Linked DNA regions of Homo sapiens. The protein of the gene in region 1 interacts with the protein of each later gene in a pairwise test. Each region holds a gene or a part of one and is shown on either strand. Other genes may lie near its edges. The genes, in order: PRR23E and ROR2.

What was found.
Region 2: the proteins of PRR23E (region 1) and ROR2 interact in binary tests that used the Homo sapiens proteins (3 or more experiments, as listed by UniProt).

Annotation. Positions count from the first base shown.
Region 1 is NC_000003.12:127,195,866-127,198,718, forward strand, and holds the end of PRR23E (proline-rich protein 23E), read left to right. Parts: intron 1-725; 5' UTR 726-820; coding exon 821-1,549; 3' UTR 1,550-2,320; downstream 2,321-2,853.
Region 2 is NC_000009.12:91,730,137-91,737,434, reverse strand, and holds part of ROR2 (tyrosine-protein kinase transmembrane receptor ROR2 isoform 1 precursor), read left to right. Parts: coding exon 1-44; intron 45-3,998; coding exon 3,999-4,313; intron 4,314-6,279; coding exon 6,280-6,525; intron 6,526-7,298. UniProt on the Homo sapiens protein: Tyrosine-protein kinase receptor which may be involved in the early formation of the chondrocytes. It seems to be required for cartilage and growth plate development. Phosphorylates YWHAB, leading to induction of osteogenesis and bone formation.

The DNA.
Region 1 (2,853 bases):
AATTTCAAGGAGATTCCTCTGGGGGACCTTCGTTTTGGGGAAAAACACCTGGGGCTACCTGATGTGCCCTCTCCTGGATACTGGGCCTTTGATCATCTCTTCACTTCTTTCTCTTCCTTTCCATCATGTCCTCACTGTGTCAGGTGTGGGTGCTGAATATGCTGTTCACAACATTCCAGAACACTCCAGGAGAAACCTGACAGGCCTTGTGTTCAGACACTGCATCCTTTGGAGGAAATGTTTTGGGAGGTCCTGCTTTGTGGGGCAAGCATCTGTCAAGGATGAAGTGCTCCGGGACCTGTCTGCCCCTTCAGCAGCCCCTGCACTGGGGTGGCCCCTGTGGATTTCTGGCTTTGCTGTTCCTTCATCTGTCAGCTTAGGGGCTTTGCTGAATCTTTAACTCTCCCTCCAGCAGGTCTCCAACAGACTTGGCCATCCATACTCTCCAGTCTTTGGTCTCTGTGACTTGCATAGAGGGAAGCATGAGGAACTGAATTTGGAACTTGTTTTGATGTCCCTAGAAAATGCCTCACGTGGCTGCTGTGCACCCCTCCCACTGCAGGGGCCACTCGTTCCTACCCAGGACACCTTGCTCCCCATCCTCCCTGGAGATGCCTTGATCTTGGCTCTTCTGTCACCTCACCCCCAGCTGTCCCCCTCCTCCCATCCCCTCCTGTGCGACCTGGTCTCCCTGCCCTCTGACTGGCTGTCTGCTCACCCCACAGATACCAGGAGCCCCGTGAGGTGCGTGTGGCCTCAGCTTGCAGAGGAGTGCACTTGCCAGACACTTCGGGGCTTTGAAGAGCACAGCTCATCTAAGATGGGCACAGGTGCATCAGAGAAACAAGCAGAGCAGAAGGTCCGCCGTGCCTTCGAGGCCTCCGAGGAAGCCCACGGGACTCTGGCAGCCTCAACCCCCTGGGTGGCCATGGGCTCTGCCTATGGTTCCTGTACCTGCTTGGGAGCCCAGCCTGTAACTGACCTGGCCCTCTGGCCTGTCATCTACTCCTGCATGGGATTTTCCCCACAAGCTTACCCAGCCTTCTGGGCTTACCCGTGGGTGCTCTATGGTGGGTATCTCTGGATGGGTTATCCCCCTCCAGCTGCCTTGGTGCCTTCAGTGTGGCTGTATTGGAGGGGCGCCTCCAGCTTTGACCCCCTCATAGGAAGTCCGTATCTGGCTGCCTTGGCCCCCAACCTATTTCCTTTCCCCATGAAATTCCCACCCACCTACTCCTTGGCTTCTCCCACTCTGGGCGGGGCCACCTCCAGCCACTGTCCCCAGGTGGGATGCTGGACTCCAGCCAGCTCAGCCCCCAGGGCTGCCGTAGAGGGGCCATCCAGAGGAGCTCCCTACTTGAAGACATGCAAAGCCCCTCCCTCAGAATGGGCCTCCAGGTTCGGTATTTGGGCACCTTTGCCCTGCTGCAGTTCAGAGCTCCGCCCTCTGCCCCCTTCCCCCATTGAAGATTCTCAGCTGGACCCGGGCTGCTCCCGCTCCTCCTCCCGGTCACCCTGCAGGGCCCGCCGCCGCCTCTTTGAGTGCTAATCAGCCCTCTAGACCCAGACCCACCCAACAATCAGAGACATGTCTGGTGGAGCCCAGCCAGCTGTGGACTTTAAGTTTTTGGAAGAGTCTCAGATGTAGGTTGTTTACTATTCTTCAGTACAGAGTACACCTCCTGGACTCATGCAAGGCCCCTCTATTTGCTATTTCTCTTTACTTTGTTTTTCTGTTTGCCCTTCAACCCTGATACTGGCACCTTTTCTCCTCCCCAGACTGTCCTGGGCCCGCCCTCTAGTAGATTTGCTGTGAGTCCTCAAACATGCATGCATGCAACCTTGTAAAATGAGCTTATTTAAGCTCAATCCAACCTGTAGAAGCGCTCAGTTAGAATAGGCCTCCAGGTTTGGTATTTGGGCACCTGTGCCACCCTCCAGCCCAGGACTCTCTCTGCCCCTCCTCAGCAAAGACCCTCAGCAGGATCCCCGCATCCCTGGCCACCCTGTGGGGCCTGCTGCTGTCTCTTCCAGCATTGGTGTGTCCTCCAGGGAACCACACACTCAAGCACTTTGGAACCCATGGAATCCAGTGAGCACGTGCTGTGGGCTCTGCCTAGAAGCTTCCAAAACCTGTTTGTTCCAGTGGACACAGAGTAGGAAATGCTGACTCGTTCAGAGCGCTAGTGCCCTTGGGTCCTTGCGGGTGTGCTCTTCTCACTCCTCACCCCATCAGCACCTTCTGGGGTAATGCACACACCAGTAAAATGTACAGTGCATGCTTTTAAAAATTTTTAAATAAATGATACTATGCTATAAATCATGTTTTCTCCAATTTTTCATTCATTAGTTTAAGACCTAGCCATATCTGTATATATGTATAGTGTATTTTGCTTATTCAAATTTATTAGCGTGTTTTCCATACTATTTCTTGCTGTATTTCTTGTTATGTGCTGTATTCCATTTTTCTTTAAAATTTTATTGTGTATATTTGAGGTTTACAACGTGATGTTATGGGATACATACAGGTAGTAAAATGGTTACCATAGTGAAGCCGACTAACATCTGTCATCTCACGGCTACTTTTTTTTGGTGATAAGAGGAGCTAAAATCTACTTATTTGACAAAAACCCCTAGTACAATGCCATTTCATTAGCTTTATTCCTCATGCTGTACCTTAGAGCTCTAGGCTTGCTCAGCCTATGTATATTTAGTATCCTTCGACTTACATATCCTGGTTTCCCCACTCCCAGCCCATGGGAACCACTGCTTCTTTCTCTATCTCTGTATTTTAGCTCTTTGTTCTGTTTTAATATTCCACATATAAGGGAAGCTGTGCAATTTTTTTTTCTG
Region 2 (7,298 bases), on another chromosome or scaffold:
GGACTCGCTTCAGATGCAGGGGGAGATTGAAAACCGAATCACAGGTAGGAGCTGCAGACCTTTCTCCCAGGATGATAAGCATGCACACAGCCATCTGTCGCACAGATGGTGGCCACTGTGTTTCATCAGTTAATGGCATGGTCAGTGGGTGCCTCTTCCATTTCATTTGTGGTAGAAACCAGAGATCTTTTTTAGAAGTAGTGGCAATTGCTAACATGATTTGCCCTAAAAATGTTCCTGGCCTGTATGTTTAAATTAGCAAGTGTGGGTTGCTTGGAATATACTTCTGCACTTTTAACTCAGCCAAACCGTGTGGGTCCAAAGCACTGTCCTCACTGCAACGCCAGGGCCTCCTGCCCCGGGCCTGCCACACTGGCGCAGATAGCCTCAGCGCCCCCACACTCACTCTGCTTGACTTCTCATTCTGTACTTCCTGACTCTTCTATCCTCTCTGAGCCACGTTTGGTCCAAAGGCACCCAGGCCTGATTGCAGCTGTTTTGGGGAAAGAGTCGCGGGTCATCAGTGGTAGGGATGCTGCAGTGAACACACACTTTGTCAGTCCTGGGTTTCCAGAGAACAAAGCCACGTCTTTGGGTACCTGGTTCAGGGTCTGAGAAAGTGGCAAGTCAATTAGGAACTGCAGCTGCTCATCCTTGGTCTCATTAGGACTTAACTTCTCTGATTGGCTGTCCCAGTTCCCAGCATACAACTCGAACACATTGATGGGGTCCGGGGTCCTTCTTAGGGGAAAGGCCTTGGAAAGGAAGAAAATTAATTAGACAATAGTCCTACAGAGCCCTCCTCCTGCTGTCTCTACTCTCTCCACAAACACATACACATTTTCTCTCCAGATCCCATAAGGAGCAAGACACATCCTGTGCAGATGGCCGGTGCCCCAGCACCTCAGTTTAGTTGGATCCTCTCCATGGGAGCGGGAGGCTCTGCTGCAGATTAGAGTCAGTGGGTGATCTCTGATGCCTGCGCTCCTGGGAGAGTGTGGTGGGGCAAAGGGGATACAGGGCACTGACCTGTTAAGGGGTGACAATGAGGATCCAAGGCAGAAAGTCACCTCATGTCACTGACAAGCCCTTCTAAGTTCAGGTCACCCTCGGACTAGAGAGTCGAACATCACATTCACGGTCACAGAAGAGACTGCCTGGCCCATGTGCTGGTACAGAGACCTCTGAGGACAGGGCCAGGGGGTCCTGTGCAAACTGAAAGAGCCATCATGAGACAGAGAGGAACCTGGAGATGCCATCCTGTTCCAGCGGGAGATGGTTTTGAAAATATGGCTACCTCTCACTGCAAAAGCTTTCTTTGCCATTAAAGTAGGACTTCTCAAAGGTTTTTACCGAAACACACAGTGGAAAATAGAGAATATACTTTACGCCATGACTTAGTGTACACATACATGTATTTCACACAACTGACATAGGTTACAGGGAATAACTTTCACCCTTCGTAAAAGCGGTGCACTTGGATTTTTCTTTTCAGTTTTATTTCATTAAATAAAAAAGTGGCCGGGCACGGTGGCTCACGCCTGTAATCCTAGCACTTTCGGAGGCTGAGGCGGGCAAATCACGAGGTCAGGAGTTCAAGACCAGCCTGACCAACATGGTGAAACCCCATCTCTACTAAAAACACAAAAAATTAGCTGGGCATGGTGGCGGGTGCCTGTAATCCCAGCTACTTGGGAGGCTGAGGCAGAAGAATCACTTAAACCCGAGAGGTGGAAGTTGCAGATCGCGCCACTGCACTCCAGCCCCAGAGACAGAGCAAGACTCTGTCTCAAAAAAAAAAAAAAAAAAAAAAAAAAAAAAAAAAAAAGTTAGAGCCCTTAGTAGGAACCGTGCATTCTGACATCCTCTAGTCTGTTCTTACCATCTTTTAAAATGCTAGCTGCAGACTCTCAGAATTAATTAGACACCCTACTAATTGGCAAGCACTGATCCAGGGCACAAGATTGTCCCTCAGTTATCTCTTCAGGAGTTGTTTAAGGAATCAGCTTGCATCCAAGCAGCCTGGTTTTATAGCATCTTTTAGAGAAGAGTTTAGAATGAAGATTTTCTAGGTGGGTGGCTTTTTGAAAACAGTAAATTTGAAGTTGCTCTCAACAGACTTGTGGTTTTGAAATAAGCATAGTAATGACTGCGTTGTGTGCAGTGTTGTGTTGGAAAGTGTTGTGTGACATTCAGGGTGTGGACAGATAACAGGATGTGAGTTGTTGGATCTCTTTGTGCCTAGAATTGCACTTTCAGAAATAAGCAGTACATTCTCAGGGTGAGGAGAAGGAGAAAGAGAAATCCTATAAAGATCAGCAGAGACATCCTATCAGTGGATTAGCCCAAGAGAAGTGACAGCTTTGGCATTCTTAGACAATCTTTCCCTGCCTGGAGGTCAAGGCCTACCTACATTTTTGACAGCCATCCATATAATCCCAAATCTGTAATGATGGGATTGAACAGGGTTGAAGCCTCAGTTCTTCCTCCAAATCCAAGACATCCTGTACTGTAACTGCTTGCCCTCTCTGTTCCTCCATTTAAATATCGGCCACAGGAACCCAGAGGAGGGGAGGTGATGTGATGAGCACAGTAGTGCCTGCACACAATCAGGACAGCGTGGCTGCTCCCGCCCACTGACGCCGCCTTTTACCAGACCCCTGGGCCCATTCACGCTGAGGGCCACTTTATAGGCTCTGTGTGCACTCTCATTCCCCAGTGTGGGGTCTCAAATCACTCTTCAGGTACAGAAACAGGCCCGGAAAGGCATGAGTGATACCACAAAGTGATCACGCACAAGGCTGTTCCCACACAGCTGCCCATCCCGTTCCTGGGTGGGTTCCCAGGGAATGACTGACAGCGGCACTGCCACCTGCTGGCCAAACCTGGCACAGCACTTACACGCTTTCCTTGCCTGGAGGTCAAGGCCAGCATTCTTGACAGCCCTCTGTATAATCACCAAATAATCGCCAAATCTGTAATGATGGGATTGAACTGCATTCGTGGGTGGAGTTAGGGCTCCTCAGGGACTAAATGCCAGCTTCTGGGTTTTCTGCCACGCTGGAGGACACAGCCTCTGCTGGGTGTGCAGGCAAAGGGGCCTGTCTGCCTCCACTGTCCCCAAGCTCAATTGTTGTAAGCCAGCCTTTCACAGGTGAAAATGGGGTAGTGAGCCCAGGGCAGGCTGATGCATTCCTTAGAGCCCTGCCTTGGCCAGCTTCTTCACCCTTACCAGTGTCCAGCCATGCACCCCAGGTGCAGCAGATCTCTCCCCAACACCCCCACTTTGTTCCCGAACTCACCCCATCTTCTAACCACCAAACTGCATCCTCTGACATCTTGCCCTTAAAAAACAAACCGCCCTACCAAAGGGGGCTCTGGATCTTCGGGTTTTTCTGCTCCCCCTTATCACAGAACCTTCCAGAGTTGTAACGCGGCTCTCCTCCCACTTTGCTGCTCTCACCCTCTTGGCTTTCCGCATTTTACCAACTGTCTCCTCCAGCTGCAGTTCACAGAGCTGAGCTGACTCCCTCTTCCGGGACAGCCTTCTCCCCAGACAGATCTGGGACATTGGGAAGCCTGGGGCTCGGTACTGCACTTCTTGGCCTGCGCTCTCCACACATGGCGGGTCCTTAGGATCTGCTTTTGCATCTGAAGTCTGAACCCTCTTGTCCTGGAAGAAGCACCTAGCGGAGTGAGCTAGGGGGCCGAGTTTTCCTTCTTTCTTGTTCTGCTTCTGATGTTTCTAAGTGAGGCCCTGGGACCAGGGACTTTTCTGTGACTGCTGCAAATCAGAGCAGGTGATGGGCAGGCTGGCCTGCTGGTGGGGAGCCTCTCCAGGGTGGTGTGCGGGGCTCGGGGTTGGGGAGTCTGGGGCGGGGCGGGGCATCAGGGGGCTGAGTGGGCAGTCTGGGATGCCAGGCTGGGGGTGGGGACTGGATGAATGTCAAGGGCGCAAGGTGGGTCCCCCGCTAACGCGAGTCTCGCGGGCTCTGCAGCGGCCTTCACCATGATCGGCACGTCTACGCACCTGTCGGACCAGTGCTCACAGTTCGCCATCCCATCCTTCTGCCACTTCGTGTTTCCTCTGTGCGACGCGCGCTCCCGGACACCCAAGCCGCGTGAGCTGTGCCGCGACGAGTGCGAGGTGCTGGAGAGCGACCTGTGCCGCCAGGAGTACACCATCGCCCGCTCCAACCCGCTCATCCTCATGCGGCTTCAGCTGCCCAAGTGTGAGGCGCTGCCCATGCCTGAGAGCCCCGACGCTGCCAACTGCATGCGCATTGGCATCCCAGCCGAGAGGCTGGGCCGCTGTGAGTGCCCGAGGGCCCGGGGCGGGACCGGGGGGCGCAGGGAGTGTAGGGCCCTTGAAATGTGTATGGGGGTGTCGGTGAAGCCCAGGGAGCCCCATCTGTCCAGGCCCCACAGAACCCCCTTAGCAGCCGAGGGCCCCACAGCCTAGGCCTCCATTCCAGCAGGGCAGCAGGCGGGGCCTCGGATCAGGGGCTTTGGAGCCATTCAGCCCCAGGCTCGCATGTGGGCTTGCACTGTGTCCAGCTGTGGGACTCAGGTGAAGTCCCTCCACCTGCTTGAGCCTGGGATTTCCCTTCTCTGAAATGGGAGTGATCTCACTTCCTGTGGAAATGGCTGTTGCGGGCATGAGAGGAGACAGGGCCAGCTTCCTAACTTGCCCGACGGTCAGCACGCACTCGGGCCGCCAGGCGAAAATGCAGACTCTCAACTCCTGCCCCAACCTCCTGAAACCTGGAGGATCAGTCCCCAGAAACCTGTAGGATCCTTAGCCTTGGATGAATGTGAGGCCCACGGAGATGCTGCAGGACTGGCCTGGGAGGGCACCTGAGAAGAACCTGTAACAATCAGGCATCACTAGGGAAGGAAATACAGGGAAGCACCGTGCACCTTTCTACAGGTCCCTGAATCGTGGGGCCTAAGGGATGAGCGTGGGGGAGGGGGACAGTTCTGAGCCCGGGGCCTGGGTGTGGCCTGTTTGGGGTCTGCACAGGACGAAGAGCATGCTCCCCACTGCCCCTCTTGCTGGCAGCAGCCCCTGCCCTCTGGAGGCTTAGTAAACCCCAAGTTGTGAGCCCCAGCAGGGTGGCCATGGCCAGTCAGGATGGCAGACACAGGACAGGGAGCGCTGCTTATGTCTCCGAGGAAAACCATTGGCTGACATCACTGCATCCATACGGGTTGTTGCCTCCCTGAGGAGTGAGACCTAGGGAACGGGCCACCTCCGCCACAGCTCCGGGGCTGTATTTAGCATCGTTGGCTAATCTGGGGGTCCAGGAATGGCCAGGACTCCTTACCAGGACCAGCCAGGGCCTGGTCCTTGGGCCCGTTGCCTGCATTCAGACCCTCATTGTGACCCTGGACAAGTTGCTAAGCTCTCATATCCTTATATTCCGTGGGGATGACACCAGTACTAACCCGTGGGGCTGAAATGAAGGTCAAATGAGGCAATATTTAGGAAGGTGGTTTTTTTGTTTGTTTTGTTTTTTTGAGACAGAGTCTCACTCTGTCACTGAGGCTGGAGTGCAGTGGCATAATCTTGGCTCACTGCAACCTCCACCTCTCAGGTTCGAGCGATTCCCCTGCCTCAGCCTCCTGAGTAGCTGGGACTACAGGCGTGCGTTACCACATCTGGCTAATTTTTGTATTTTTAGCAGGGACGGAGTTTCACCATGTTGGCCAGGCTGGTCTTGAACTCCTGACCTCAAGTGATCCACCCGCCTTGTTAGCCACGGTGCCCCAGCCAGGAGGGTTTAGAGCAGCGCCCCACACATGGTAAACACTACAGAAATGTTCACCAAATGCACACCCCAACCCCAGGGTTCCTCCATGGAGGTGGCGTGGCCTGCACTGTTCTCACCCATGGCTGAGCAGGGTGTCCTGAGATGGAGGGGCCAGGCCCTTCTTGCTTGCACAGTTGGCTTTCTTCCTAGAGCAAGTTGATCCTGAGGCTGGGGAGACATCCCCATTCTGGTGGGGTGGTGGTGTGCAGGTGCCTCGTGGGTCCCAAGAGATGGTTCTGGGGCTGTGGAATAACTTTAGACAAGTTTCCTTCCCCATGCCTATCCCTGATGTGCCCTGCATTTAATTTGTGGGCTTGGGACTTCATTAAGCCATTACTTTTAATGCCTCTTTTCTGGTAAGTTATGTAAAATCCTTGGATCTTTTGGAAATTCTAGTTTGGGCATGTGTAGGCAGAATGGTTTTGTTGTACCCCGGAGGTTTTCCTAACGTGTTTTCCTTGTTCAGACCATCAGTGCTATAACGGCTCAGGCATGGATTACAGAGGAACGGCAAGCACCACCAAGTCAGGCCACCAGTGCCAGCCGTGGGCCCTGCAGCACCCCCACAGCCACCACCTGTCCAGCACAGACTTCCCTGAGCTTGGAGGGGGGCACGCCTACTGCCGGAACCCCGGAGGCCAGATGGAGGGCCCCTGGTGCTTTACGCAGAATAAAAACGTACGCATGGAACTGTGTGACGTACCCTCGTGTAGTATGTATTCTCTCTCTCTTTTTTTAATGTGTTGATTGTTGAGTGAACCTTGTGATGAGGGCGTTCTGTCCTGACCTGGGTTGGGGTGTGCCTCTGTACGGTGGCGACCAGAGACCCCTGATCTTACCACAGTGACCATTTTAAATAAAGCTGTTGGGCCACGCGTAGTGGCTGATGCCTATAATCCCAGCACTTTGGGAGGCCGAGGTGGGCAGATCACTTGAGGTCAGGAGTTCAAGACCAGCCTGGTCAACATGGTGAAACCCCATAAAAATACAAAAATTAGCCAGGTGCGGTGGCACATGCCTGTAATCCCAGCTACTCAAGAGACTGAGGCAGGAGAATCACTTGAGCCTGGGAAGCGGAGGTTGCAGTGAGCCAAGATTGTGACACTGCACTCCAGCATGGACAGCAGAGTGAGACCCTGTCTCAAAAATAAATAAATAAATAACGCAAGTTATTGGTTGTTATGAAAGTAACATCTGACCATTACAAGACATTTTAAAATATAGAAAAGTCTGAAGAGTAATGTCAGATCACCCCTAATGTTACCACCCAGTAGTGACTTGTTTGCGTTTTGGCCCACCCCCTTCCATCAGCCCTTTTCCCATGTATGGATGGTCCTGGGATATTCACTTTGACATTTTGTTTCTCCATTAACATTATCTCCCAGTGCGGTGGCTCACAACCTGTAATCCCAGTACTTTGGGAGGCCAAGACGGGTGGATCTCTTGAACCCAGGAGCTTGAAACCAGTCTGAGCAACATGGCAAA